4 linked regions of the Homo sapiens genome follow. The protein of the gene in region 2 interacts with the protein of the main gene of each other region in a pairwise test. Each region holds a gene or a part of one and is shown on either strand. Other genes may lie near its edges. The genes, in order: GLP1R, CCDC167, MEP1B and AQP9.

The links.
Region 1: the proteins of CCDC167 (region 2) and GLP1R interact in a protein complementation assay, tested with the Homo sapiens proteins (one study listed by BioGRID).
Region 3: the proteins of CCDC167 (region 2) and MEP1B interact in a protein complementation assay, tested with the Homo sapiens proteins (one study listed by IntAct).
Region 4: the proteins of CCDC167 (region 2) and AQP9 interact in binary tests that used the Homo sapiens proteins (3 or more experiments, as listed by UniProt).

Annotation. Positions count from the first base shown.
Region 1 is NC_000006.12:39,079,770-39,086,796, reverse strand, and holds part of GLP1R (glucagon-like peptide 1 receptor precursor), read right to left. Parts: intron 6,100-7,027; coding exon 6,058-6,099; intron 892-6,057; coding exon 724-891; 3' UTR 1-723.
Region 2 is NC_000006.12:37,489,888-37,496,914, forward strand, and holds part of CCDC167 (coiled-coil domain-containing protein 167), read right to left. Parts: intron 1-7,027.
Region 3 is NC_000018.10:32,186,157-32,193,039, reverse strand, and holds the start of MEP1B (meprin A subunit beta isoform 1 precursor), read right to left. Parts: upstream 3,002-6,883; 5' UTR 2,970-3,001; coding exon 2,907-2,969; intron 1,219-2,906; coding exon 1,200-1,218; intron 395-1,199; coding exon 350-394; intron 267-349; coding exon 223-266; intron 1-222. UniProt on the Homo sapiens protein: Membrane metallopeptidase that sheds many membrane-bound proteins. Exhibits a strong preference for acidic amino acids at the P1' position. Known substrates include: FGF19, VGFA, IL1B, IL18, procollagen I and III, E-cadherin, KLK7, gastrin, ADAM10, tenascin-C.
Region 4 is NC_000015.10:58,169,380-58,176,406, forward strand, and holds part of AQP9 (aquaporin-9), read left to right. Parts: intron 1-3,688; coding exon 3,689-3,826; intron 3,827-5,538; coding exon 5,539-5,657; intron 5,658-7,027. UniProt on the Homo sapiens protein: Aquaglyceroporins form homotetrameric transmembrane channels, with each monomer independently mediating glycerol and water transport across the plasma membrane along their osmotic gradient.

The sequences.
Region 1 (7,027 bases), 1.6 Mb from region 2:
ATGGCAGAGGCAGGCACCAAAACAACTCAAATACCTGGAGGAGAAGCGAGCACCGTCTCAATGCTCATTCTTTCTCAACACCACCTACAGCCATTTCCAGAAACAGCTGCTGGCAGTGGCCCAAACAAAGCCCCTCAAAAAGAAACTGGGCAGTGAGATGAGGGGGCAAGATGAGGGAAATAAGCAACCCAGACACACAAACAGCTTCCCTTTGAGAGAAGACAGGGGAGGGTGGTGACCCCAAGTGATGCAAGCAGAGGAGGCTCCCGTCACTCCCGCTCTGTGTTTGGCTGAGGTTAGAAGAGCCACTTTCAGAACCACCTCCTCTTGCAAGCCCCAGTTTCACTAATAAGCCGTTGACCTTGAGTTTGAGTCTGGGGTTGATTTGCGGCTCTGTCTGGGGGAACCCCAAGGGCCTGTGGTTTCACAAGAAGCAATCCTCCTCATTTTCACAGCGATCGTTTTTCCTCTCCTCTCGCCACTGTGATCAAATTAGGAGGCTGCTTCTCCTAGGAGAAAATGTGTCCATGGTCCCAGGAGGCACTGCCCATTTACCTGTCTGATGGGTTTGGGGAGGGAAAGCAGGATGTATGTGTGTGTGTGTGTGTGTGTGTGTGTGTGTGTGTGTGTCCCTTCCTTCCCTTGTCCCTGGGAGTGTCTCTCCCACCTGGATTGGCCACCCGGCCTGCAGCAAGGACCCCAGGGAGGGCAGGCGCTGGAGTCTCAGCTGCAGGAGGCCTGGCAAGTGGCTGTGTACATGCTGCTGCCCGCCGTGGCTCCACTGCTCAGGCTGCTGGTGGGACACTTGAGGGGCTTCATGCTGCTGTCCCTCTGGATGTGCAAGTGCTCAAGCCGCCAGCGCTCCCAGCTCTTCCGAAATTCCAGCTGGACCTTCCATGGGAAAAGGAGGGAAACGAAAGCCATCATGCAAACCAATGGCTAACAAAATGGCCCCACTATTACATTAGTGGGGAAGGGAAGAAATCCACTGCATTATATTAAGAGACACAAGTCAAGGCCTTCGGGCTCCTAAATTAATATCCCAATAAAATTGTTTATTGTTGTCTCCTATTTTCTGCAGCTCCTCAGGAGAGAGATCAGCTTGATGACCTAATTGGTCTTTTCCATCTCTAAACTCTGTGATTCAGCTAAGTACCTTTTACAATCCATCACAGTATTATTTAACGGAAGAGAATGAGAGGGAGGGTGAAACACAGGGAGACAGGAGATGGGAGAGAGAAGAGAGACTCTGTCTTTACAGCGCACAGTCCAGTTTCAGCTTGGATGCTTGAGAAGGGGGACGGCAACCCCCAGCCTTCCTGGTGTCTACAGCAGACCCTTCTAAACTCCCTGAGGGCTTCTCTCCAGGCCCCAGCACCTCACAGGGGAGGAGGGAGGGAAGGAAGGAATGTGGCTGAGACGGGAAACAGCAGGGAGGAAGGGGCAGCCAGTGAGGGCTTCTCAACTGATGCCATCTAGAGAGACACTGCAGTGACCATGGGGGTGCAGCCCAGGGGAGCTCAGTCAGCCAGGATCCCTGTTGTGCTGGGCTCTGGCCTCCCCATCAGGAAAAGCCTCTCAGGAGGGCTGATGCTTGGGGGCCAGATTGTTGGGGCAGAAAGAGACAAATCCAAGTAACACTGTGGAGCCCCCATCCCTTGAGGGTTTGTGGCAATGCTGTGGCTCCCGGTGGTGGCCAGTGATTCTGGTCCCTGGAGAGGCCTAGCTGGAACCTGCCAAGCTAGTCCTGGGGGGTCTGGACTGCTCTTCTGGGTGATGTTCCCATACATTTGCTTTCCAGAGCTTCTTTGAAGTCCCCACCCTTCCCACACCAGAGTGTCTGGGGTCTGGGCCCTTCCCTTTAGGCCAAGTCACCAAGACAGCCAGATGCCAGCGGCTGTGGATAAGGGGCCAATCTCCCCACCAGCCCCTGTGCAAACAACCCTCCTCTCCTCCTTTGTCGTCCATCCAGCTATGCCCAGCAAGACGCCTGGTATGGCTGCATGCCATCCCTTAAAAGAACATTTTCTGCACTGAGTAGAGTTGAGATGGCCCAGAGGCTGCCTGCCAGGATGACGCCAGTGTCCCATGCAGCGTCATGAACCCAAGCTTGAGTGGGGGAGGGAAGGAGGCTGAGCAGACACCACCTACAGCCACCCTGTTGTATGCCAGCTCCCTGCCCGGCTGAGTCTTTGTGAAGGGAGCGCATGCTGACAGCTGGGATGGGGGCCCTGAGTCCAGTGGTGGCCCCCACTTGTGCAGCTGCCAGGAGGCCAGGCTTGTTTCATAGCCCTTCCGCTGGAGAGGGGGGGAAAGATGGTAAACTGAGGCACACCTCCGGGAAACCAGAGACCAAAGAGAGGTTTCAGGGACACCTATGGGACTTCTCAGGGTGCTGACACACAGTGTCTCCTTCTGCCCCCATCTCCTTCAGCACTTTTCCTGAACCTCTGCTGTGACCCCTGTAATCACGATTGTCCTTGAAAATCACCATATTTATTGGGCACTTACTGTATGCACAGAATTTTCCATTAATTATCTTAGCTGACTTTCACATCAACCCTGCAAAGTAGCTCCACATTTAAAGATGAGGAAACTGAGGTGCAGAGTGTTTATTTCCTCAGGTCGCTCAGCCAGGATTTGAACCTAGATCTGGCCTGATTCCAATGCCCGGCTCCTAACCCCTGGCCTCCTGCCTGCGTGGCTCTTGCAGTCCTGCTTGTCCCTGGTCCATCTCCTACCTCTCACCTGGGAGCACCTCGAGGGCTGGGACCACATCTTCTTCATCTCAGCATCCCTGAACCTAGCACAGTGCCCAGCATACAGCAGGTGCTCAGTACATGTGTTTTAAATGAACCAAATGAATGAACACATAAATGCATGAGCATCTCACATCAGGTTCCTTCTGTTCCTCAGCTATGAAAATGAACCCACAAAGACAACACCACAGATTCTGAGCACCTGGGCTGGGACTTAGGCCACCACACTTCCTCCTCCACCATCGGATTTTTATCCTCATCCCTGCCCTCGACCTCTGCAGTGCAGCACACCCCTCCTGACCTCCCTCTCCAGCAGGCACCATGCCAGCCTCAGGATTCGGGGTGAATTGGGAAGCTCATTCACCTTCATTTACGGCTGGGGAGACAGAGGCAAGGGAGGCAAAATGACTTGCCCCAGGTCACACAGCTCGGCAGTGGCAGGGCTGGGACAAGCACTCAGGGCTCTGAGTCACCTCACTGTGGCTCTCAGGCACAAGCTACAGCAAAACCACCTTCAGGCCTCCCCCTCCCTGTCCCCACTCACGCCCACCAGCAGCTGGTGCAGGCCTTGGCAGCCACACAGAACCAATATTCAAGCCATCTTTTCTCCTCAGGTCACAAGTACCTGGCATTGCCATGGCAACCCTGGGTCTGCAGAACAGCTCTTGTGGACAGAGGCCTTAGCCCCAGAGCCACATGTGTCTTTTGTGGCCCAGTGACAATGATGTATCTGTCCTTGTGCCTGGAGCAGCCAGGGCATGAGGAGTCTCAGGGTGGGTTTAAAGGAACTGGCTGGTGCTCTGAAGGGAGACAGGTTCTCCCGTTCTCTGAGCAGGGTCTCCTGGACCCCGTGGCACTAGCCTGGAAGATCCACGGGGAGATGCTAGCTGGGGTCTGTAGCCAGGCCTGGTCAGAGAGGTGCAACCCTGGTGATTCAGGATCAAGTTTTTTTCCAAGGGCAAAGAAGTACTATCCCCTTACAAAGGTGGGCCAGCCATAGGTGGTGCATGAGGAGGGAGGTGATGAGATGACTAGGCTTGGAAGGATGGAATCTGGAGAGGCAGCTGAGCCAGGGGTCAGGGGAGACTGTTCACAATGGCGGGGGGGAAGCCAAGCACACGTGTCTGCTAGTAGGGCTGCAGTGACAGTGTCAGAGGATAGAGAAGTGAGAAACGGGGACGTGGGGGGGTCAAGATGACAAGGTGGCAGCAGGGAGCCTCAGTCTCTCCCTACAGGCCTCTGCTCCTCATCCCCACACAGGATACATGCCACCCTGTCTTGCCCCCATCACCACTGGGCTGGAATGGAAAGCAGCAGAGCTCAGGGCTGGGTAGCGCATCACCCAGCTGGCTGAGAGCATTCCTGGAGGGGAGGCCACCCACAGAGCTTAGGTTTTTGCACTTCCTCGTTTGCATCAGTTTTAAAGAAACTCATTTTGAGGATATGGCAGTGGAGGAGGACCAGGACTGCCTCCTGTGGGTCACGAGCCTGTTCCCTGCCCTACCCTCCAAACGGAGCCGCTGGGTCCTCTAAGACCTGTCCCAGGAGCAGCCAGAATCCCATTTATGGGCCACTCTTTGCCTGGCGCTGCCTTCACCTCCCCAGCACCTGCTTCCCTGAGGCATTAAGTGGGATCTTGCCCCCGCCACAGCCCACTAGCTCTACCATCTTCTGTCTATTGAATTAGGCTACTCATTTCATTTTGCTGAGGCTTAACGTTCTTAGCTGTGAATTGGGGATACCATCTGCTGCACAGCATTGGATGTAATGAGACACTCTGAGCACCTTATATGCAGTAAACCCTTAAGAGACCTTGGTTTCCCTCCCATTTAGAGATCTGAGGGCCACACTTCCCACAGGTAGCCAGTTCAGCAGAAGCAGGGGGAGGCCTCAGGGACAAGGGAACATTCCCCTCCCTTCCCTTTCACCCAGCCTCATTTTCTCTGCACGGCATCCTCTGAAATTCCTTAGGCCCCTGTCTCTGGGAATCACTGAATACTGATCTAATAGTGATTGCTTACTGAGCATCTGGAGATAATGGTGTGTGTTTCTCCATGCCAAGCAGCACCTGTGAGGAGCTAGGATGGGCCTTCAGCATCCCACCTTGAAGGAAGGACTTGTTCTCTGTTCCCCTTTCGCACCTTTTTCAGACTTTCTTAATCCTCACAGGATTATCCCCACTTTGTAAATGAGCAAACTAAGTTTCAGAGTGGGCAGGTAACTTAGGCAAAGTCACACAGCTCATTAAGTGATGGGGCCCAGATCAGACCAAATAAGATGCCAAAGCCTGCATCCTTGCATCTTTTCTGCTACATCACATTGCTTCTTTGAGCCATCTCATAGCTCCTTGAAACACCCAGGTCCCCACCCACTGTCCTTTCTGCATCCCCCACACCCATAGAAAAAGACAAGCCTATTAATGTGCTGACTCCAACATCCCTGAGCTCTGGGATTCCAAAGCTGAGTACCTTGGTGGAAGGGGCCTTTTCCAGGTGCCCATGAACACAGCCATGCCCTCCTCCCAGGAGCTGACCATCTCAGGGATGGGAGGGAGGCCTGCTGTCCTGCAGACATTTTCAGGAGAGTGTGTGGGGCCAGCGAGAACCCCCTTCTCCCATCCTAGCACCAGAAAGCCACCCCCTTCCCCACAGTGAGCCAGGGCTCTTGCCTGTGTGTATGAAGAATGGGGTACTTTCTGCTTTAATGCAGAATTAATTTGAATCCTGGCTCTGCCATGCCACTATTTCCACACTTCACCTTAGCCAAAAGGCTAAGAAGCGATGTGTGCCACTATTTCCAAACCTAGGGCAGGTTCCTGACTCTTTCTGATCTTCAGTGTTTTCATGTATATATAAAAAATGGGAATATGAAATAAGAATTTTAGCAGGGTTTTTTTTTGAGGGATGTGGGGGTCATAATTAAATGAGATAGTGATTATTAAAGCCCCAAGCATGTGGCTTGGGTATGTGTGTGTTGAATCACTTTGTAAGTGACAGTCACTACCACCAAGCAAAGAGGGTCATTCAGGATCCCCTTAACATGAGTCTGGGTCTTCCTTAGGGTCACATGCCATTAGGGTATACCTGTACATGTACTTGTGTGTGTGTGTTCATGTGTGAGAGAGACCATGCACAGAAAACCAAATCTGTGGACAAGATGGCTTCTCAACCCTAGTGCCTCAGTGAGGTGAGTAGGGGGTTTCAGCTGGCAAGATTGATGGGAGTCCCCATTGTACTACTCCAGACGGGCTGATGGTACCCACCCACCAGGGTCCCCACCGTCCCTCCTCAGAGCTTACCTCATTGTTGACAAAGCAGTATAATATGGCCACCATCAGCCCCTGGAAACAAGAGTCACATCAAGAGGGAGGAAGCAGGAGGGAGGTGCCCTGCAGACTGGCCCTGGTCGGAAGCACTTTGGGACTCCATCCTCAACAACCCCCTCCCCAAATCCAGCGGCCCAGGCAGATCCAGGAATGGGGCAGTGGCTTCCCTCTCATTTCCTTTCTGAAGGAACACCAGGGTTGCACCTCTGCGACTAGGCCTGGCTACAGGCCCCAGCTAGCCTCTCCCCATGGGTCTCCCAGGCATGTGCCATGGGGTCCAGGAGACCCTGCTCAGAAGCTGCCCAGAAGCTGTAGAGATCCTACATCCAACCTCTCCTTGAGGAGGCCTGATCCAGTGAAGTACAATGACTCTGATCATGGAGAATATTCCCCACTCCAGCCCCATCTGTTCATGAAGGAGACCCAGGGCTCCAGAATTGTGTTCTGTATGTCTGCACATGTATGTAAATACACACACATGAGCCCACATGTGTGCAGGCATCTCATGACACTCTTGAGGGGCAGGCAGGGACCAGTTTTTTTGTATTTTTACACCCCCTTAGCATCATCTAATGCTAGTGGAGAGGATCAGTTCTTTTCTTTGAAACTGTGACACCGTAACTCTGGTTTTAACACCTCTGAGTCTCCTCTGTAAAGTGAGGCTAACCCTGCACATCTCCTGGGTTCTGTGAGGAGTAAATGCACAATGCATGTAAAGCACCTGGCAGGGTGCTCGCCACCAAGTAGATGGCAGCTGCAATGCCAGGCTGGTACCCAGAGCTACATCCAGGAAGGCTTCTTGTCCCATGTGCTTACAGAGAAGACTGGCCCAGGTATTGGGACACCTGGGGATACTAGTTCTGGCTCTGCTCCAACTAGGTGACTTTGGGCAGGGATCACCCCTCCAGGTCCCAGTCTTCCCACCTTTTCCATCTGCATGATG
Region 2 (7,027 bases):
GGCAAAGTAGAGACAGCCAAGGCAGAGACCTAGACGGCACAGTGTGGGGGCAGAGAGCAGGTGCCCCCTGCTGTACAATAACATTAAGAACCACCCGTGCATTATATTTACACTCAGAAAACCAAGGTCAATTTTTACATGGGGAAAAAGCACTGTGTCCCAGTCACTGAGATGAGTCAGCAGGGGGCACAGGGCTGCGATCTGCAGGGGCTTTGGGGACCCCAGGAAGTAAGAGAGGCGATGGTATGAACCCACTGTCAGCCAGCACACTGCTTCCTGGCATCTGGCCCAGCCTGAGCCCTGGGGAGGCGCTGTGTGAAGCCCTGTGTGAGCGGTCCAGGGGCCCAAGGAACAGGTTGGAGAGTGTGAAGGGTGTCCTGGGGAAAGTCTGTTCTTTACCCAGAGACCAGCAGTGGCTAAAAACTGCCTGGGGGGATGGCTGGGGAGTCTGCCTAGGCAGGGGAGACACAGAGCACAAAGGAAGAGGGGAGGAGGAAGGAAAAAGAGGCATATGAGGCAGGGAATGGAGAAGGAGCATCCCTCAGGTAGACAGGTGGGAAAGGCCCCAGGGGAGGCCTTAGGGAGTGGGACCCAACAAGTCCGTTCTTTTAACAGAAAAGCCCCGTAGTGATGCTGCCTAAATTACTGAGAACTGCTGCTTCTCAGTATCAGAGCCTGGGGCAGGGAATTGAGGCCTGCTGGGTGAAGGAGTGAGCTCAGCGAGGAGACCCATGAGACCAAAGGCCCTCCACAGAGGGGGTGTTCTGTGCAGAAGAATGAGAAGATCTAAAGTCAGCCCAGCAGTCAAGGCTGCAGAGGCTGTGTTGTAGGCCTGAGGGGTGCTGGGGACAAGGCCCTAGCCAAGTAGGGCCGTCAATCCTGCTGGCAGGTGCCAAGAGCAGAAAGGGCTTCTTCATGCCCAGCGGCAGGGGCAGGGACTCTTCCTGCAGCCTCCCTGAGAGCCCATCAGACAGATGCAGCTCCAAGCACCCGGGCCTGGAGTTCAGCAGCCCCCAGGCAGATAAGCAAACTCCCCTCTGCAGCCTGACTTGGGGAATATCACCTTATTCTGGGAGCTTTAAGGAAGTCTCCCTGGGGTCCTATATGCCATAAAACCACTGTGTTAAGAGAAACTGTAAAATTCGTGTGAAATCCCCGCGAGGCATCTTTTCAGGAGTGTAGGCCCTCTCAGAATCAGAGCCCCACGGAGGCCTCACTGGGGGCAGGGAATTTCGTGCCAGCTCATGCACAGATAACTGCCCCAGCATCCTGGCCAGGTCAGCTGATGGGGTGCCAGCTCCACGGCTAGCTGCTGTTGGGGGCCTCATATGCAGCTTTTCTGCCAACAAGCACGAGACAGTTCGAGCCACAGGCTACCGTTCACTCTATTCTCCTACTGAATGGTGTTCCCACAGAGCATCTAGACAGCCGGGGAGGTGGCTCTCTGCCCACTCCCTAATGAACCACTGTCTAGGGCCAGACCTGTTTCTGGGAAAGGGCAGAAGGCACCCCCGGGGCCTGGTGCTGGGCTACACAGGCCACTCTGCTTTCTGATTTAGGAAGCTGTTTGCTGTCTCTCCGGCTTTACTCTTGGGAGCTTCTGGCCAGCGAGTGACAGGTTTGCTACAGGGTCAGGCAGTGGTAATGGGGCATACACTGCACCTGGCTGGACAGGTCCTTACTGGGCACTCAGACCTTCCAATAAAGAGCGTGGTGCCAGGGTAGCTGAGCCGAGCCAAGTCACAGAGTCTCCAGTGTCTGCATGACAGCATGAGTGTAAGCAGCCTCTGGAAACCAAAAGTCCCAGCAAAATGGAACCACAACAGTGACAGCAGCAGCAACACTTCTGTAGTCTGTGCTGTGTGCCAGGCACTGACCTACATGCTTTACACCGATTAACTCACATAATGCTCGCAAGAACCCTGTGAGGTGGGCAGTATTATCAGCATCCACATTTGACAGATGAGGGGACTCAGACATAGGTAACTGTCCAGGGTCACACAGGCATTAAGTCCGGGAGCTGGGCAGCCACGTCTGTGCCCTTAACCACCATGCCACATGGAGAAGGCAGCGCTCATCAGCTCTGAGGGACTCCTAGCTCCTGGGCACAACCTCCACACCTTACCCCTGGAGCTGGGCAGGTTGTGGGCAGCTTCCTGTGTCTGCAACCGCCCTGCAAGGAAGGGCCCATCTCCATCTTACAGAGGTGCAAGCTCCCTTGCAGAGGTTTTCAGCACCTTGCCCAAGGTCGTGTAACTGGGAAGGGGCAGAATTGAAGCCTGAATCTGGGTTTTTCTGCTTCAGGGCTTATGCTCTTTCCACCACTTCAAGCTCTTTCTCCAAAATCCCTCATGAAAACATTCATGACAAGAGTTCTGCAGAACAGTCATTCCACATCCCAGCTGAAGCCCATCTAAGCTTGCTGATCTGGCTTCAACAGATTCTCTACTCGGAATAATCTTGTACAAGGCTCTGCTCAGTTTCTGTCTACATAACAGATACTCTCTGTGAGGGAAAGCCCTCATTGAAATTTGTTTGTTGAGACAGAGGAGACAGGAGCCCAGCGTCTGCCCTTACACTGGGCCAACTCAATGAGCTTCACAAACATCCCAGGCATTTTGCCCCAGATCACCTCGACTGTCAAAGCATCCTCCAAAATTCACACAAAACAGATCCAGTTTGGAGACGGAAAAAGGTGGGCTACTTGGGCCTGATAAACCCTTCTTTCCCCAGCAGTACCGAAGCCTTCCCTTTCACTTGCTAATTCACAGCCTGGAGAGTGGTGTCAGCTGTTTCATCTCCAGCCCCAGCAGCCTGGGAACTGGATTTTTGAAAATTCACTCATTTTCACACGTCAGGAGACCCCAGGACATTTATTATAATGGGTAAAGCAGCCAAGTGCCTGCCCAGATGGTCTCTGGCAAGAGTGCAGGGGCTTTCCATTTGGAGCCTTCAGGCTCCACAGCAAGTCACACGGGGTTCTTAGGCCTCAATTTTCCAGGTGACAAGCCTCAAACCCCAAGGGGCCCATTATCCCCACATCGTTTAAGGGATGTTTTTCTGTGGAGGCGGCTCACAGAGCTCTGTGGGGGCAGAAAAACCTCCGCCCATGGCTCCCCACATCAACAGGCCCTGTAAGGATTTCTCTCGCAGGTTGTGCAGCTGAAGACGGCAGACCTTCCCAGTTTTTAATCAATGAACAATTTTCAGGAAGAGCAGGGAGAGCCTAGGGGCTTGTCGCTCGCCTGGACACACCCCCATGCCAGGTCAGAAAGGCGAGGGAACCGCTGCAGCCCACGCGAGTCCCGACGCCTTCCCGCGAGGAGACGGAGGCCGAGCCAGCCTTGCAAGTTAGCGCCCGAGCCAGTCCGCGCCCGAAGATGCCAGCTGTCCCTGGGCCGGAAGGTGGTGTGGGGTTTGTTTTGTCTTCTTTCCCCCCGATATCTATTTTTTGATAAACTAGCAAAAGCTTGTTCATCGCTGAAAGGCTCAAAGCACTTTTCAAGAACTGGCATCCACCCCGAGCCTTATGAATTCATTAATTAAGATGCTGGCAGACAGCCACTCCACACACGCCGCCATCCAGCCGCGCTAGGTAATGAGGTTTTAGTCTCCTGACCCCCGTCAAGTGGCGCAGAGCCAGATGTAGGCTGCCGCGAGAAATCACCTGCCCAATGGCGACCTGTCGCTCTCGCCTGGCAGCAGGTGAGGCTCATTTAATGGTCAGCGGCCCCTGAACAGTCCTCTGCGTGCTGCGAGCCTTTCTCCCAGCCCCTGGCTTGGGGTTCAGGGTCCCAGCAAGGTGGCGTCTAACCGCCTGCTCTACTGTGACCTCCACTCAACTGGGCCCAGACGTCAGGGTGGAAGGTTCAATGCCTCCTCCTGCCAATCGAGCCAGTTCAGCAAATATTTATTGACAGTCCACTCACCTGCTCCTAGCCCTTGTCTCAGGAAAGTGGGAGGTTCCCCTGAGCCCTGTGCACAGCCTGCTCCAGAGCGGAGACCGTCTTCAGCCACACTTGGTGCTTCTGCCTGCCCTGCCCCACGGAGGCTACTGCAGTGGCTGGCACCATACAAATAACCACAAGCGTCAAGCCTTCCGGTGCTCTTCCTGGCCTAGGCCATTCTCTCCCCTCAGCCTACCACTTCTCATGGTCAGTGATCCTGCCTTTTTTTTTTTTTTTTTTTTTTTTTTGAGACGAAGTTTCCCTCTTGTTGCCCAGGCTAGAGTGCGATGGCACCATCTCGGCTCACCGCAACCTCCACCTCCCAGGTTCAAGCGATTCTCCTGCCTCAGCCTCCCGAGTAGCTGGGATTACAGGCATGTACCCCCATGCCTGGCTAATTTTGTATTTTTAGTAGATGGGGTTTCTCCACGTTGGTCAGGCTGGTCTCGAACTCGTGACCTCAGGTGATCCGCCCGCCTGGGCCTCCCAAAGTGTTGGGATTACAGGCGTGAGCCACCGCACCCAGCCGATCCTGCCCTCTTTTTCTGGTAAGGATTCCAGTGAATTTTCAATGACTCCCATTAGCATTTATTCCTTACAGCAGATACTGTCAACTGGCCAACACAACACCGACTCCCCACCCCTGCTCCTTTGCCCACCTCTACTCCAGAAGGTGGAAAAGCTCAGCAGATGCTCTCCCAACCTCACTGCAGCTAGGCTTGCTCATGACCCAGTTCTGGCCAATGAGACGTTCCAGAAGTCAGCTAGGAGACTCCTGGGGAAGCTTATGCTTTGTTGATAAAAGGGACAGTGTTGTTCCTTCCTCCTCCTTCCTGAGTTAAAGTTGAATATTAGACTGGAGCTGTGGCAGCTATATTGTGACCATGAGGAAACAGTGAAGAGAATGCAGAAATACCAACTCTGACATAGCTAAGCTTTTGAACCAATGCCAGTAGCCACCTACCTACAAATTTTTTTTTTTTTTTTGAGACGGGGTCTCTGTTGCCCAGACTGGAGTGCAGTGGCACGATCTTGGCTCACTGCAACCTCCACCTCCTGGGTTCAAGCAATTCTCCTGCCTCAGCCTCCCGAGTAGCTGGGATTACAGGCGTGTACCACCACTCCTGGCTAATTTTTGTATTTTTAGTAGAGATGGTGTTTCACCATGTTGGTCAGGCTGGTCTCGAACTCCTGACCTCAAATGATGCACCTGCCTCAGCCTCCCAAAATACTGGGATTACAGGCGTGAGCCACTGCACCTGGCCCCTACAAATTTCTATAAGGGGAAAAGTCTACTCCCATTTGCTTAAATCATTGAGGTCAGTTTTCTATAACTTGTAGCCAAAAGCTTTCCAAACTGATAAACTTTCTGTACTAGGGGTCAGATCCAACCAAGTTATCCACTTTAGGATACCGGCTAAGACACCACACATCTGTTAACTCAAGACCAACTGGTCACTGAAACATCTAAAGACACCAGTTTGAACAGTCCAGCTACAAAAGAAAAGTGCAATGACAAAGGAACAGCTCATTACCATCAGAGATCCGAAAACACAAACAGGTTTTACATCAGTCAAAATTCTCCTATCAGTTTAGACTGAAATTCAACCTTTCCTTCCTCCCACACAACATTAAAATCAGTACTGGGTGGGTGATTTCTCATTTGAACTATAATTTTCTTTTCTTATTAAGAATGAAATCTCAGAAGCTAAAACTCACAGTTTTTTCCAACTCTGAGATCTCATATGGTGGCAAATGAATTGGATAAAAAGACCTCAAAAGGAACCACTTTGAGGGGGAGGCTAGAGGGTGCCCTGGTTGTCCTAAGAGGTGGCTGCTTATACAGCTGGCCCAAGCCAGCCCTAAGGGTGAGTGCTGCCTGCTTGGTAATTGCTTCATTACAAGTGGAGACTGTTTGCAGGTGCTGAGATCACTCACTTGTGGGGGTTTTATTGCACTCGTCAGATTAACAAACATTTTTGATTAAATCACCACTTCATTGGCTCTGAGCACACAACTTTTAATAAGAGGACAATATCTACTGCTACTGAGCATCAGTGCACATTCAATACTCAGACCCGCTGGGGGCAACTGAGAAGCAAGGTGGGGAGACAGCCAGCCAGATGTCAGGCTTTTTCCAAGGCACACGGTTACAGATGTCAAATCTTCGAATATCCAAGCAAAAAGTAAACTTAGGGACCAAGATAGCAAATATAAACATCTACCGTGGTATGGAGAGGGTAAAACAATGGAATCTGCCCCAGTATAAGGCACTTGGAGAATACATGCCCCACCAAGTTTAAAAACGTAAAAATCCGGCCGAGTGTGGTGGCTCACGCCTGTAATCCCAGCACTTTGGGAGGCCGAGGCGGGCGGATCACTTGAGGTCAGGAGTTCAAGACCAGCTGGCCAACATGGTGAAACCCCGTCTCTACTAAAAATACAAAACTTAGCTGGGCATGGTGGTGCACGCCTGTAGTCTCAGCTTCTCGGGAGGCTAAGGCACGAGAATTGCTTGAACCCGGGAGGCTGGAGGCTGCAGTGAGCTGAGATCATGCCGCTGCACTACAGCCTGGGCAACAGAGCAAGACCCTGTCTAAAAATAAAATAAAATAAAATAAAAACTTAAAAGTCTGTCAGCCAAACAGAAGACATCTGTGATCTGTATTTGGGCCATAGTCAAGGAGTTTGTAACCCCTGGTGAAATTCAAGTCCTTCATGTTATAGATGAGTGAACGAATGCCCAAGAACGAGTTTGACTTAGCCATGGTGGAAGGATGCAAAAGAAATACAAAGGCTGGAGCTACCATGTATTGATTACCAATCCGGTGCCAGGCACGTGCTGGGCACTTAACGCAATGTCTCATTTAATCCTCACAACCACACTGTGAGGTGAGGTGCCATCTGTAGTGAGACTACAGGCTGTCTGTGAAAACACACTGGTCTCTTCCTCCATAGTAAGCAAACAGTAGCTGGCTATGTGGCCTCCTGACTGGTGAACGCATTTCCCTGATCCCTTGCAGTCAGGTGGGGTTTTAGTTCTTGCCAATGGAAAGTGGACAGTTTGGGCCCAGGACAGT
Region 3 (6,883 bases), on a different chromosome or scaffold from region 2:
TGGCTTGAACCACACAGAAATATGAGTAATGAAAGATGAAGACACAATTATATGCATTTCTTTGAGTATAATATATTCATTGAATAAATGTGTCACCATGATTCTGCACCCTTAGAGATAGTTAGGCTTAACAAAGTTCATGCTGTCTAATCTTTCTCAGTTACTCTGAATTTGGCTTGCAGTGGTTAATGGAAGATTCTTCCTTATACTGTTTCAACTCACCCTATCAAGTCTGATGTCACCCTCAAAAAGATCCAGTCCCAAACCTAAGAGTAAAGATAAAAATTCATGTTAGCAAATTGGATTCAAACTCTCTACTTAAGAGATTATGTAAAAAAAATCCACAAACCTTCATTGATATCAAATATGTCCTGGTCCATTCCGCCATCTACATCTTTGATTAAAACAACAACAACAAAAAATTGAACATTATGTTTATAAAAGGAGAAAACCTTTATCATTTATATAATCAGAACTAAGCAAGTTTCTTTTGGCCTCAGGTGACTACTAGATTCAGACTCAACATACATTGATTGATTGATTGATTGATTAAGAATCTCCTATGAGCCAGGTTGGGCTCTAAAGAGCTTTTATGTATGTATTCTGTCCTATCGACATTCCTTGAATGTCAAATGACTTCGGGAATAAGAAATTGGTTGCTCCATATATTATTAAGCATAATTTGAAAGACTAGAAGACTAGATTAAATAGCAAACAAATGATTAAATTTGGTCAAACTAGCCCAATCTACTCATACATGTATATCACTTGCTAGTAGTATACCTTGGAACTTTCAAGCAAAATTCTTAAGTTAAACTTGAATTACTATTTTAAGTTGTAAAGGTGTATATAATATGGCCAAATCTCCGAGTATGCAAGTGAATACTGAGTAGACTGTTATTATTAGGTCCATCTGATTTGACACAAAATAACAAAAACAATAATAGCAAGCATTTATGGGATGTCTATGTGTCAGTCACTGTGCTTGGCCTTTCCTATACCATCTATTTCTTTGCTGGGCATATGAAGCCTGGAACATGGACAATAAAATGTCCCTCCATAAATCAAAAGAATCCAGTATTAGATCAAAGTTCAATGCAATTATGCATCAATTATGCATATGTAATTATGTATGATGTTTAGCATTAAATATGTCCTAGGTTCTCTATAACCTAGAACAAAACTCAAAATAGACTCACCAAAGTTTTCTGGAGTTGCCTGGGAAATAAACACATAAACAAAACATATTATTATAATGCCCAGGAATGGTCTTCTTGGATTCAGTTTATATCTAACCATTTGTTGTTTGTTTGTTTTGTCATTAATATTATGGATTACTTCCTGACATGTATTTAGGATGGCTAAATTGAAGTTTAAGATGACTTTTTGACCAAAGGGTCTTCTCATTTCATATGGAAAATGAAACTGCCTGTTAAATCAATTTGAAGGTGAAGGAAACAAGAAACCAACTTCAAAAATTGGGGGGGAAAAGGCAGAACATAAGACTCTAGCTCTCAAATAAGTGCTCACTTTACACACGATTTTCTAAAGCATTCATGGAGCAATGTTTGAAAAACCAAATAATTTATTCTCAATGTTGAAATAATACTGTAATTTATAACAATTCTTTAAAAAGAAATGTTATTCAAGACTCATTAATCAAGTTATTTTGCATTCATGTTTCTCCCAGAATAATTCTGCCTTCAAAGACAATACAAATATTTAAGAAAAACAATGGGTACATTTTGTGATTAATTTTTTTTCTGAAAATAGATTCTCCACAAATGGTCAATGAAACTCAGACTACATGTCCAAAGGAAAAAAAAAAAAAACAACTAAGTAAACCTGAGAAATGTCTTAGTGTGATTGAATTAAAAAGCTCATAGGACTGTCTGGGTTATGTTACCAGTTCTACTAACTAAGGGTAATTCAGTTCACCTTCCAGGTACTCAGACTATCCATAAGATATGGTCAGTACCTGCTTTGCATGGGTATTGTGAGGGTTACAGTATATAATGTGAAAGAAGGCTCATTGTAAGCTATAATAAATTGTCACAAAAGTGTAAAGTACAATTTTATTCAAATACAGCTTACATATCTAAATACTAGAATCATTTGGAGCGTTTAACAAAATGTGGGAATGAACTGGATGGATGGTTACCATCATTTTTGACATTAACAAGTGCTTTGCATGTTTCACACTATAACCACACACAGGCATACACTCATAGAGGAATGCCAGTGCACCTACAGAATAAAATTATCAAGGATTTATTCCTAATTACACTTTAACATGTATTCATCTGTATCTCTTGTTTGCAATGTTCTAGTTCCTATTCATAGAATATCACCCCAATATAATAATTGTTATTTTAAAATAACAACTGAAGGTTTTCCACTAGCCATTTGAAACTTCATTTAAAACCTTGGGTTGGTTTGTGATACAAACTACCTGATAGAAAAGATTAGTCCAAACTGTAGAAGGATGAGTCTAAACTGATGAAGAAGCATAAGAGAAATACCACGTTATAAAACTTTGTAAGTACTGACGGTGCCTGTGACACTCATTCATGTCTCAAGTTACTGTGCAGCAATCTGCATTTCATTCAGCAGTAAAAATGGAATGATTTTCAAAATACACATTTATAATCTCATCAAAAGAAAACTTGTTACACAATGATGAAACTGAAAGGAAAACATAACTTTATATCAATGTCTCTACTCTGGTGTGGCTATTTGTCACTCCCTACACACTGCCCACCCCTAATCTCCAAGAAGAAACACTCATTTGAGATCAACATTTCAAGATGTATAAAAAACAAACAAAAAAAAAACACTTGTTCTTTAACAATCAATATCAACTGCCCCAAAATTTTTAAATTATCTTCTATATACTGTTTCCTTACCAAGCCAGAAATCACGAGAAGAGCATCCAAGAACAGAAACCAAGACAGATTCCATAAATCCATGTTGTAGCTTCCAGTTGAAAGTAGCTAACTATGACATTCAGGGTTGAATTGACTTCTTTAAAGGCAAACATTATAATTTATAGCCTTTGATCTCAATGATCCATATTGCAGGTCAGCTTGATGCTGTAATAATACCTCCAATCAAGGGATGAAAGTCCAGTATTTTTAACACAGCTCTGCGGAGTTGGTTTGTTGGCTTTTTTTTTTTTTTCCTGTGTCAACAATTAAGTGCCTGGCTGAGACTTCTTAATGAATACATTCTCTAATGTATGTGTACTGGTCCTTAGACTAGTAAACACCACTTAAGCAAAAAATATATATATCAAATTAATTTTTAATCTTGATCTTATGAAACTCCTCCTCTCATATAGCCCCATGCTGCTTTAATATATCCAGTTATGTCCACTGCTTTTTATCATTCACTCATTTAATAAAAATTATTGAGTGCCTATAATTTATTGAGTTATAAAATCCATTAATGTGCTAGAAATCAGGCACACCGGTTATTCACATATAGAGTAGTAACATAGCAATGTATCTCATCCCTAAAAATTCCCATCAAGCAAACACTGGTGGGACATGGGTCATAAAAGTAGGAATGGTCACTGATTTTCTAATAAAATAATGTTCCCAATCCATCTCTTAATTCTTTCTCACTTTTTCCTTCTTTTCTTGGGATAATTTCTCTTTAGAAACAACCTGTTCTCTCAGTTCCCATGGCTTCATATTCAACTTACTTAAGATGCAGGATAATATTTTTTGAATACTAATTTTTGGCCATGGTGGCTCACATGTGTAATCCCAGCAGTTTGGGAGGTCAAGGTGGGTGGACCACCTGAGGTCGGGAGTTCAAGCCCAACCTGGCCAACACAGTGAAACCCCATCTCTACTAGAAATACAAAAATTAGCCAGGTGTGGTGGTGCATGTCTGTAATCCCAGCTACTTGAGAGGCTGAGGCAGGAGAATTACTTGAACCTGGGAGGCAGAGGTTGCGGTGAGCCGAGATCACACCACTGCACTCCAACCTGGGCAACAGAATGACACTCCATCTCAAAAAAAAAAAAAAAACCTAATTTTTTTCTAGTTTCCCCTTCCCCTCTCCAGCTTAGCCTTCACCCCATTTTGTGCTAATAGGAAGACTATCAAGAGACATGTAGCATAGACAAGGAGTTTGAGAGGTTGCTTCCTGAGTACAAGCCAGCACTTCCCACCCTATGAGGGTAGGATGAGAATTAAATGGGAAAACTGAAAACTGTAGTTATAGTCAGTTCTTCACTTGATCCCTGAGATCCCCTAGATATATTATAGGATCCAAAATCAAATGGTCCTGTTTCTTGGCTAGAGCTACAAGGAAGCAAAGGGACTCTACAGAAGAAGGCACATCTTGGGAAGAGGAGAATAACTCCTGGGGCCAAGGGAAGCATAGAAGTATCAGAAAAAGCTGTCATGCCTGAAGAGCCATGTGGATAGGAATAAGGATGTCTCCATTGCAGGCTGCACAGAATCACAAATAAGGACCAGACAGAGGGACTGATATTTTAGAGGATGCCTGTGAGGATAGATGACATCAGGGATCATAAGGGACCTTCCCAATGCATTGGGACTGTTAATTAAGGTTAGGCACAAGCCTAAAGGTAAAATGTGAATCCTGAATTAGCCGCAATTAAATTTTTGACATCTATGTGAATGGGAACCTAAAATATCAATTATTATAACAGACCAATGGAACAGAGTAGAGAACCCAGAGAAACCAGATGCCAAGAACTTACACTGGGGAAAGGACAGTCTCTTAATAAATGGCGCTGAGAAACTGGATATCCATATACGGAAGAATAAAAATAGATCTCTGTCTTTCATCATATACAAAAATCAACCCAAAATGGATTAAAGATTTAAATGTGGCTGGGCACGGTGGCTCACACCTGGAATCCCAGCACTTTGGGAGGCCGAGGCAAGCGGATCACAAGGTCAGGAGTTCGCAACCAGCCTGGCCAACATGGTGAAACCCTGTCTGTACTACAAATACAAAAATAAGCTGGGCATGGTGGTGCACTGCACTGGTGCATAGCTGTAATCCCAGCTACTCTGGAGGCCGAGGCTGGAGAATTGCTGGAATCCAGGAGGCGGAGGTTGCAGTGAGCCGAGATCGCACCACTGCACTCCAGCCTGGGTGGCAGAGAAAGACTCTGTCTCCAAAAAAAAAAAAAAAACCCAACAAAGAAACAAACAAACAAAAAAAGATTTAAATGTAAGACCTGAAACTATAAAACTACTCAAGGAAAACATGGTAGAAATGCTCTAGGATATTGGTCTGGGCAAAGATTTTTGGGGGGTAAGACCTCAAAGATACAAGCAACCAAAGCAAAAACAGACAAATGGGATTACATTAAGCTAAAAAGCTTCTACACAACAAAGGAAACACTCAACAAAGTGAGGAAACAACTCACAGAGTGGGAGAAAATGTTTGCAAACTATCCATCTGACAAGGAATTAATAACCAAGATATATAAAGAACTAAAACAACTCAATACCAAAAAAAACAAATAATCTGATTTTAAAATGAGCAAAAGACCTGAACAGATATTTCTCAAAAAAGACAAACAAATTGCCAATAGCTATATGAAGAAATGCTCAGCACCACTAATCATCGGGGAAATGCAGATCAAAACCACAATAAGATATCATCTTACCTGAGTTAGAATGGCTATTATAAAAGAAAAAAAACGAAAGATAACAAATTCTGGAAAGGTTGTGTTGAAACAGGAAGACTTGTACACTGTGAAAATGTAAAGTAGTAGAGATATTATGGAAAACAGTATAGAGGTTCCTCAAAAAACTAAAAATAGGACTCCCATATGATCCAGCAATTCCATTGCTGAGGATATATCCAAAAGAAGGGAAATCAGTAAATTGAAGAGATATCTGCACTCACACGTTTATTGCAGCACTATTTGTAATACCCAAGATATAGAATCAACCTAAGTATTTGTCAACATATAAATGGATAAAGAACATGTGGTCTATATACACAATAGAATATTACTCAGCCATAAAAAAGAAATCTGACACTTTCAGCAACATGAATGGAACTGGAGGTCATTATAAGTGAAATAATCCAGGCACAGAAAAACAAATATCGAATGTTCTTACTCATATCTGGAAGCTAAAAAAAAATTTATCTCATGGAGGTAGAAAGTAGATTGGTAGTTACCAGAGGCTAGGAAGGGAAGGGAAGGGAGGAGGAGATGAAAAGAAGTTGGTTAAGGGGTACAAAAGTATAGTTAGATAAAATAAATGATTTAGTATTTGATAGTACAGTAGGTAAATTATAGCTAACAATTTATTATATATTTTTAAATAGCAAGAAAAGATTACTTGAAATGTTCCCAACACAAAGAAAAGATAAATGTTTGAGTTGATGGATACCCTAATCACCCTAATTTGATTATTATACATTGTATATAGGTATCAGATCATCATATGTACTCCCAAAATATAAACAATTATATATAAATAAAAATTTTAAAAGAAAAAGAAAAAAGTATGATTATAGAAAAATAAAGACAGTCTGGGTACAATGGCTCAAGTCTGCAATCTCAGCACTTTGGGAGGCCAAGGTGGGGCAGATCACCTGAGGTCGGGAGTTCAAGACCAACCTGGCCAACATGGCGAAACCCCGTCTCTATTAAAAATACAAAAATTAGCTGGGAGTGATGGTGGGCACCTGTAATCCCGCTACTTGGGAGGCTGAGGCAGGAGAATTGCTCGAACCCGGGAGGCAGGGATTGCAGTGAGCTGAGATCGCACCATTGTACTCGAGACTGGCTGAAAAGAGTGAAACTCTGTCTCAAAAAAAAAAAAGAAAAGGAAAGACATTTATTAAGCACAGCTGTTTCTATGAGCCAAGATTTGT
Region 4 (7,027 bases), on a different chromosome or scaffold from region 2:
AAGGACTGGTGGCTTTGGGAACATTTTGGGAACATGCAGCACAACACACTGGCCCATCATGACATCTGTGTGGACAACAGCATCAGTATCAGCTTTGGCAGGTGCAGGAATAGGGGAAGATTGTGTGTGGGAGGTGACTTTCTCATCGTGGCTGCAGCTAACATACTGGTTTGTGGGCACATACTGGCTTGTAAGGTCTGCTTGAAGATTCCAAAAGTAACCAATTTATACTGAGCATAAATGTGAATGGGATCCTATTTTGTGGTCACCGACTAGTGAGGTCAGCAGATATTTGTCTTTTAAATATAAAACATCACCTTATTGTAAAGAAGTTACAGCATCCTGCTCCCCTGGGAATGTTCCAGTCAAATCCAGTCAGTCAGAGGTCATAATACCCTAATTATGTAGCATCCTGCACAAAGCATTTAGGCTGTCTAATGGCAATTGCTATTGATGTAGTATTTTATGACTAAAATAAACTTATTGAAAAAGCAAATAGACTTGCTTTCATTACAAAATATAGGGTTATCTTGATCACAGGATTGTGTATGGGTGGCGAGGAGGAGAGGATTTGCATAGAACAGAACACTGAAGGGGTTCCCTCTGCTCACCTAAGACTTTCATCTTGTGCCCTGTGGGATCCAGCTGTGCCCGCGGGCCCTTTATGTGAATAATCTGATTGTCCCAGCAACCTCGGCAAAGCCAAGAGTTGAGTGCAGGACTCTCTGACTCTAGTTCTCATGTTCTTTCCAATACACTGCTCTGCCTTGTCCTTGTGATAAGCCAGGGTGACCACTCATCTCTGCGGGGAGAAATTTCTAGCAGCCACTTGGCCTCTAACCAGAGGCATCAGGGTGCCACTTGTCCACCTCTCTTTCTGAACCTTTCTGCCTCCTCTCCAGCCCTTTTCCTCATTGCTTTGCAAAGCACCCTTCCAGACATACCCTCTCTAACCCCCAAACAACTATTTTTCTCTGTAGATCACTGTAGTCTGAGCTATCTAAATAAGGCCTCAGATTATTTCTTCAACTTTCTTTTTTTTTTTTAATGGAGTCTTGCTCTGTCACCAGGCTGGAGTGCAGTGGCATAATCTCAGATCATTGCAACCTCCGCCTCCCAGGTTCAAGCGATTCTCCTGCCTCAGCCTCCCAAGTAGCTGGGACTACAGGCGTATGCCACTATGCCCAGCAAATTTTTGTATTTTTAGTAGAGACAGGGTTTCACCATGTTGGCCAGGATTATCTTGATTTCTTGACCTCATGATCCACTCGCCTTGGCCTCCCAAAGTGCTGAGATTACAAGCGTGAGCCACCATGCCCTGCCTATTTCTTCAGCTTTTATATTGAATACCTACTAAGTGCCTTGCATCATGTGAGACCCAAGGTAAATAATAGTTCCAGCCTCAGGATGCTTAGGAGGAGCCAACAAACAGAAACCTACTTATGGGAAATTTTATTTTGGAAGACGAAATTGTTAAACAAAGAAATCTCCCATTGGTAGACTAAACTCAAGGGAGTTGGACTGGAGGTGATCACTTACGGCCCCCTTGGTTTTTTGTTGTTGTTGTTGTTGTTTGTTTTTGTCGCCCAGGCTGGAGTGCAGTGGCGCAATCTCTGCTCACTGCAACTTCTGCCTCCTGGGTTCAAGCAATTCTCCTGCCTCAGTCTCCTGAGTAGCCAGGATCACAGGTGCGAGCCACCACGCCCAACTAATTTTTTTTTTTTTTTGAGACGGAGTTTCGCTCGTTGCCCAGGCTGGAGTACAGTGGCACCATCTCGGCTCACTGCAACCTCCGCCTCCTGGGTTCAAGCAATTAGCCTGCCTCAGCCTCCCGAGTAGCTGGGAATGCAGGTGCCTGCCACCACGCCCAGCTAATTTTTTCTATTTTTAGTAGAGACGGCGTTTCACCATGTTGGGCAGGCTGGTCTCAAACTCCTGACCTTGTGATCCACCCAACTCAGCCTCCCAAAGTGCTGGGATTACAGGCATGAGCCACTGCACCTGGCCCCGCACCCCTTTTCCTTTCACAATGGCTACCTCCAGGCAGCTGGAGGCAGCTACTCTGCAGCAAGCCTCTGGGAGAAGAGAAACTTCCCACTGCCCTGTGTGCCCCCTCCTCCCTCCTAACCCCTGTTTCTAGCCTTCCCTGGTAAGGTGTACTGCTAGTCTCCAGAACTGTGGCTTTCCTGGATTTGAAAGGAAAACACAACAGTTGAAGTGTTTATAAGGCTTTAGGAAATCATCTGTGCTTCAATACACTGGCATTTTCTTGCTCATTGTAGCCACTGAGTGGCAGGGGCAGGTGAAGAAAGGACTCTTGTGGCTTAGCCAGCAGCCAGAATCCCCCACCCACTGCAAGTCCATTTTGCCCTGGAGACTTGGAAAAAGCATAGCTTTCTCCACAGGGAGTGGTAGAGGCTTCTGGAAACAAGTGCACCTATTGGTTCTGTGCAGGATCATCATCATCATCATCATCATCATCATCATCACCACCATCATCCCTCCTTTGTTTACGACCAAGGCCACAGCCTGAAAGTCCACATCTCAATGTGGTGTCTCTGATTCCCCCTCCACAAAAAATGTCATCTGTATTCCTCAAATGAACATCTGTTTTCACTAGGAAGTGAGCCTATATGCTCAGACAATTTTTTTAAATTCTTTATTTATTTTTCTGCCCACAAAAGCAGAGAAGCCTTTATAAACACGGTGAAGATGGGCTGGAAGTGGTATAGCAGAAAACACAGGCTCTAGAATTCAGATAAACCTGAATCTGAATCCTGGTTCTTCCATTTACTGACCATGTAGCCTTAAGAAACTTACTTTCCGTCCATGCCTCAGTTTTCTCATCCGTTAACTGGAGTAGTACTCATCTCATTGGGTTCTTAAGAGGATCAAATCCACCTACTAACCCTACAATGGTGTCTGGTAAGTATTTGATAAATGCTGCTGTTGTTGTTACTAGCAAAGCCAGCTGGGGATGTTAGAGACCAACCACAGAGCAAACTCTCTATTTGATTTTATGGCTGGATGCAAGTCAAGGAAGCCGATTTCTCTAGCTGGAGCTTGGGCTGGGCTCAGGAAAGGGTTGCTACATTTCTGTATAGGAGAGAAATGCATTGTTTATGCAGAGGAACTGAGAACAAGCCACTCACACTGTGACCACCTCAAAATCAACTATGCCCCCACCCTCAGCAACCCACAGTCATTTTCCTTTAAAGATACATCTCTTTTGAGCTTGTTTTTATATCCTCTGGGCATGGCCGGAGGAACTGCTAGATATAGATTTAAATCTTATACATATATTGGATAAGCATATTGACTTTTAAAAGATATCGAAGTTAATAGCTACATCAGTCTGTTTGGGGTGACTGCTTTATAGATAGAGGGATTCAAGCCTATTAAAAAAACAGCCACTTGAGCACATCAAGTTTCTTTTTATACCTGACTCTCTTTTCATCAAGATAAACATTCTAAACTGTTATCCAAGGATGCCATGAAAATGATCATTCCTCCTTCTCTCCCTGCTCAGATACACACTCTCTCTTTCACGTGCATACACACCCCTCTTTCTCCTCATAGGCAGTAGTTCTCTGCCTAGAAGACTGAATTCCACCTGAGGTCTCTAGATGGTTTTCTGTATATTCTTCTTCCTAACCTGCCCTCTCACTTCTCCAATCTTCCCTTGCAGGTGGTCACATCAACCCAGCTGTGTCTTTAGCAATGTGTCTCTTTGGACGGATGAAATGGTTCAAATTGCCATTTTATGTGGGAGCCCAGTTCTTGGGAGCCTTTGTGGGGGCTGCAACCGTCTTTGGCATTTACTATGGTGAGTAAAGTCCCTGAGTCCTAAGGTTAGGAAGAGCTGGGCATAATTTGAAAGTCAGAATTACTTGGTAGGCACAGGCGAGAAAAAGCAAGGACGGGAAGCATTCTACAAGTGACAGCAAGTTCTAAATTTGAGAAAATGAGGCCATATTACCATTCCAGCAAATTCGTGAATCCTGTTAATGAAAATGGTCATATCTTAAATGGGGAGCAGAACTTAAAGGAAGCCTGTCTTTGTGCCAAGCCAGCACTGCAACATACACATCCATACAACAAGCAGTAGGCCAGTGGCTTCCCCACTGCTGTCTCTGATTTGGCTGGGAAAAGAGGTGTTTTCTGGTGACAAAGGTGTGACCAGTAAGTATTGAGAGAAGGACTCTGGGAAGATGTCTTTGAAGGAAGAGACACAGCAGAGATGTGGGCTGGGTGGGAGCCTCATTGCCCTTCTATCAAACAGCCAGGGCTTCCACTCTGCAACAGTCCTTGGGAAAAACACAGTATTGGTCATAGAAGACCAGACTTTAGCTCTAGCTGTTCAGTAAATACCTGTGCAACTTAAATAAGTCATCTGATCTGACTAGCCTCAGTTTCCTCCTCTGGAAAATGAGGGAATTGAATCAGATGACTCTCGAGGCCTTTCAAACTAAAACACCTTGGTGTTCCCATGAAATCAACTGTTAAAGCAGCTCCTTCCTTCTAACCCAAGGTAAGCCTTAATACATTATGACTTACCCAAACTGAAGACCTTAGGAAGTAGAATTTATGAACCAGGCCTTATAGAAATGGGTCATGGAGGGCTGGGTGTGTGGTGGCTCATGCCTGTAATCCCAACACTTTGGGAGGCATAAGTGGGAGGATCGTTTGAGCCCAGTAGTTCAAGACCAGCCTGGGCAACATAGGGATACCTCGTCTCTTCAGAAAAAAAAATTAAAAATAAGCCAGGTGTGGTAACTCACATCTGTAGTCCCAGCTACTCAGGAGGCTGATAAGAGGATTGCTTCAGCCCAGATCAAGGCTGCAGTGAGCCAGGATCATGCCATTGCACTCCAGCCTGGGCAGCAGAGCAAGACCCTGTCTCCAAAGAAGAAAAAAAAGAAAAAAAAAAAGGAAAAGAAATAGGTTATGGAAAGGGACTTTTCCCCATAGAGTGTCTCTCTGAGAATTAGAGTCTAAAAGGGCTAAAATGGAATTCAAGAACACACAGGAAATTCAGAGCCCGCTGCTGTGGCAAGAATGGCCTGGGGTCAGTGCTAGCTGTGGCAGTGGCTGCAATACCCCTGGCTCTAAGGGCATCTTCAGTATACTGCAACACCCTCAAATTCTGGAGTGGTATTAGGGGTTACTGAGAGCCCTCTGGGAATTATAAATTATTCCTAGAGCAAGACCAAGCCCCACTTTGGCTTACAGTTGACCTCGAAAACTCCAAGAATTCCCCCAAAAGAGAACTCATTCCCAGGACCCTATCGAAGAATAATTTGTCCAAGTTTGCAGTGGGCCATTCAGAGAGGCCAAAGGCCTTCTTCCTTTGACCCTCCATCCTGGGATTCACCTGGGCATCTCTAAAACTATCATTCCTCGGAAGTAGAGAGAGACAAATGACATGGCTATGCCAAGCTCAATCTGAGTGACTGGTTGTTTAGCACAAGGCTTGGCACAGGCCTCCTTCAACTCTTCCCAGGGAACACTAATGTGCCAGAGCTTTCTCTTTCATAGATGGACTTATGTCCTTTGCTGGTGGAAAACTGCTGATCGTGGGAGAAAATGCAACAGCACACATTTTTGCAACATACCCAGCTCCGTATCTATCTCTGGCGAACGCATTTGCAGATCAAGTAAGTGTAGATTCAACAAAGACTTAACTTTGGTGAAAAGATATGCTCTCATAAGGGGAATGCATTGGAGAATTAGAGACCAATCAGAAAGGAGAGATTATATTTCCAAAGGCAGAGGTTGCTGGGCATAACCCAAGCTTTCTTGATAATCGTTTTACCTTTACAAGGAGCTGATACCACCAGAAAAGTTTTCTCCTTCCTCTTTAATACGTACACTTGTTTAACATTAGTTGAGATCCAGAAAAGAGTGAATGACTAAACATTTCAATCCCTGTAGACACAAATGGACTTCACTTCACTATTGACTCTTTTGAACAAGTGGTCTAAGTGTGGAGGCCACAAGAGAAGATATTTCTATTTCAAATCAAAGACTGTGAAGGGTGGTAGTTGAGCCTAGGGGATCATCAATCCTCTCTGTCTCACCATGTGCATAGGTTTATTTATTTAAACTCTCAAGGTGGCTAGAAGTATCTCTGCTTATTGACCTTTAAACAAGCTTCTAGCACCCAAGCATACTGTGGTGTAACCAATAGCACACCTATTTGGTCAGCTTATGGCAGGACTAACATTGTCAACTCAAAAGACTCTTCTTCCCTTACTGTGTCCCAAGAAGGCTGCTGGTTATCTTGGTCAGGGCAGTGGAAGGAAGGCTATATTTTTCAGTATCTCTAAGTTCTTCCTCTATGATCAGGACTTATACAGTGGAGCAGATCAGAATGGGCATGTGTATAAAATGGATCTTCCAGTTCATCAGCTATGCCCACCTCCATTCAATGTATGGATGAAAAACTATGCCCTCATGTCCTCAGCTTTTTTACTTTCCACTTTCATCAATAAATCAAACAGGCAACAAGTGTTCATTAAAAACTCACTATGTGCTTGGCCCTTTGTCTGGAGCTTGAAAGACTGACGAGTAAATGTGAGTTGTAAAGATCCAAGATGCAGAGTCTGAATGCTTGAATTAAAATAGCTGTTCTGCCTCCAACTTCCTGCGTGGCTTCAGCAAAGTACTGAACTTTTTGGGTCGCAAGTTATTCACTTGTAAAATGGGGATAATATGAGCCTTCATGAAGTTACTTATGAGGATAAAAAGAATAATATGAGAAAAACGCATTGTAAGCAGTATCTGCCCAGAAATTTTGAATCTAGTTGAAGAGCATTGAACAAGGAAACAATGCAAAATAAGATATAATTAGACAGAGCTGGGCACGGTGGTTCACATCTTACTCCCTGCATTTTGGGAGGCCAAGGTGGACAGGTCACTTGAGCCCAGGAGTTCACTACCAGCCTGGGCAACATGGCAAAACCCTGCCTCTACCAAAAATACAAAAATTAGCCATGCGTGGTGGTGCTTGCATGTAGTCCCAGCA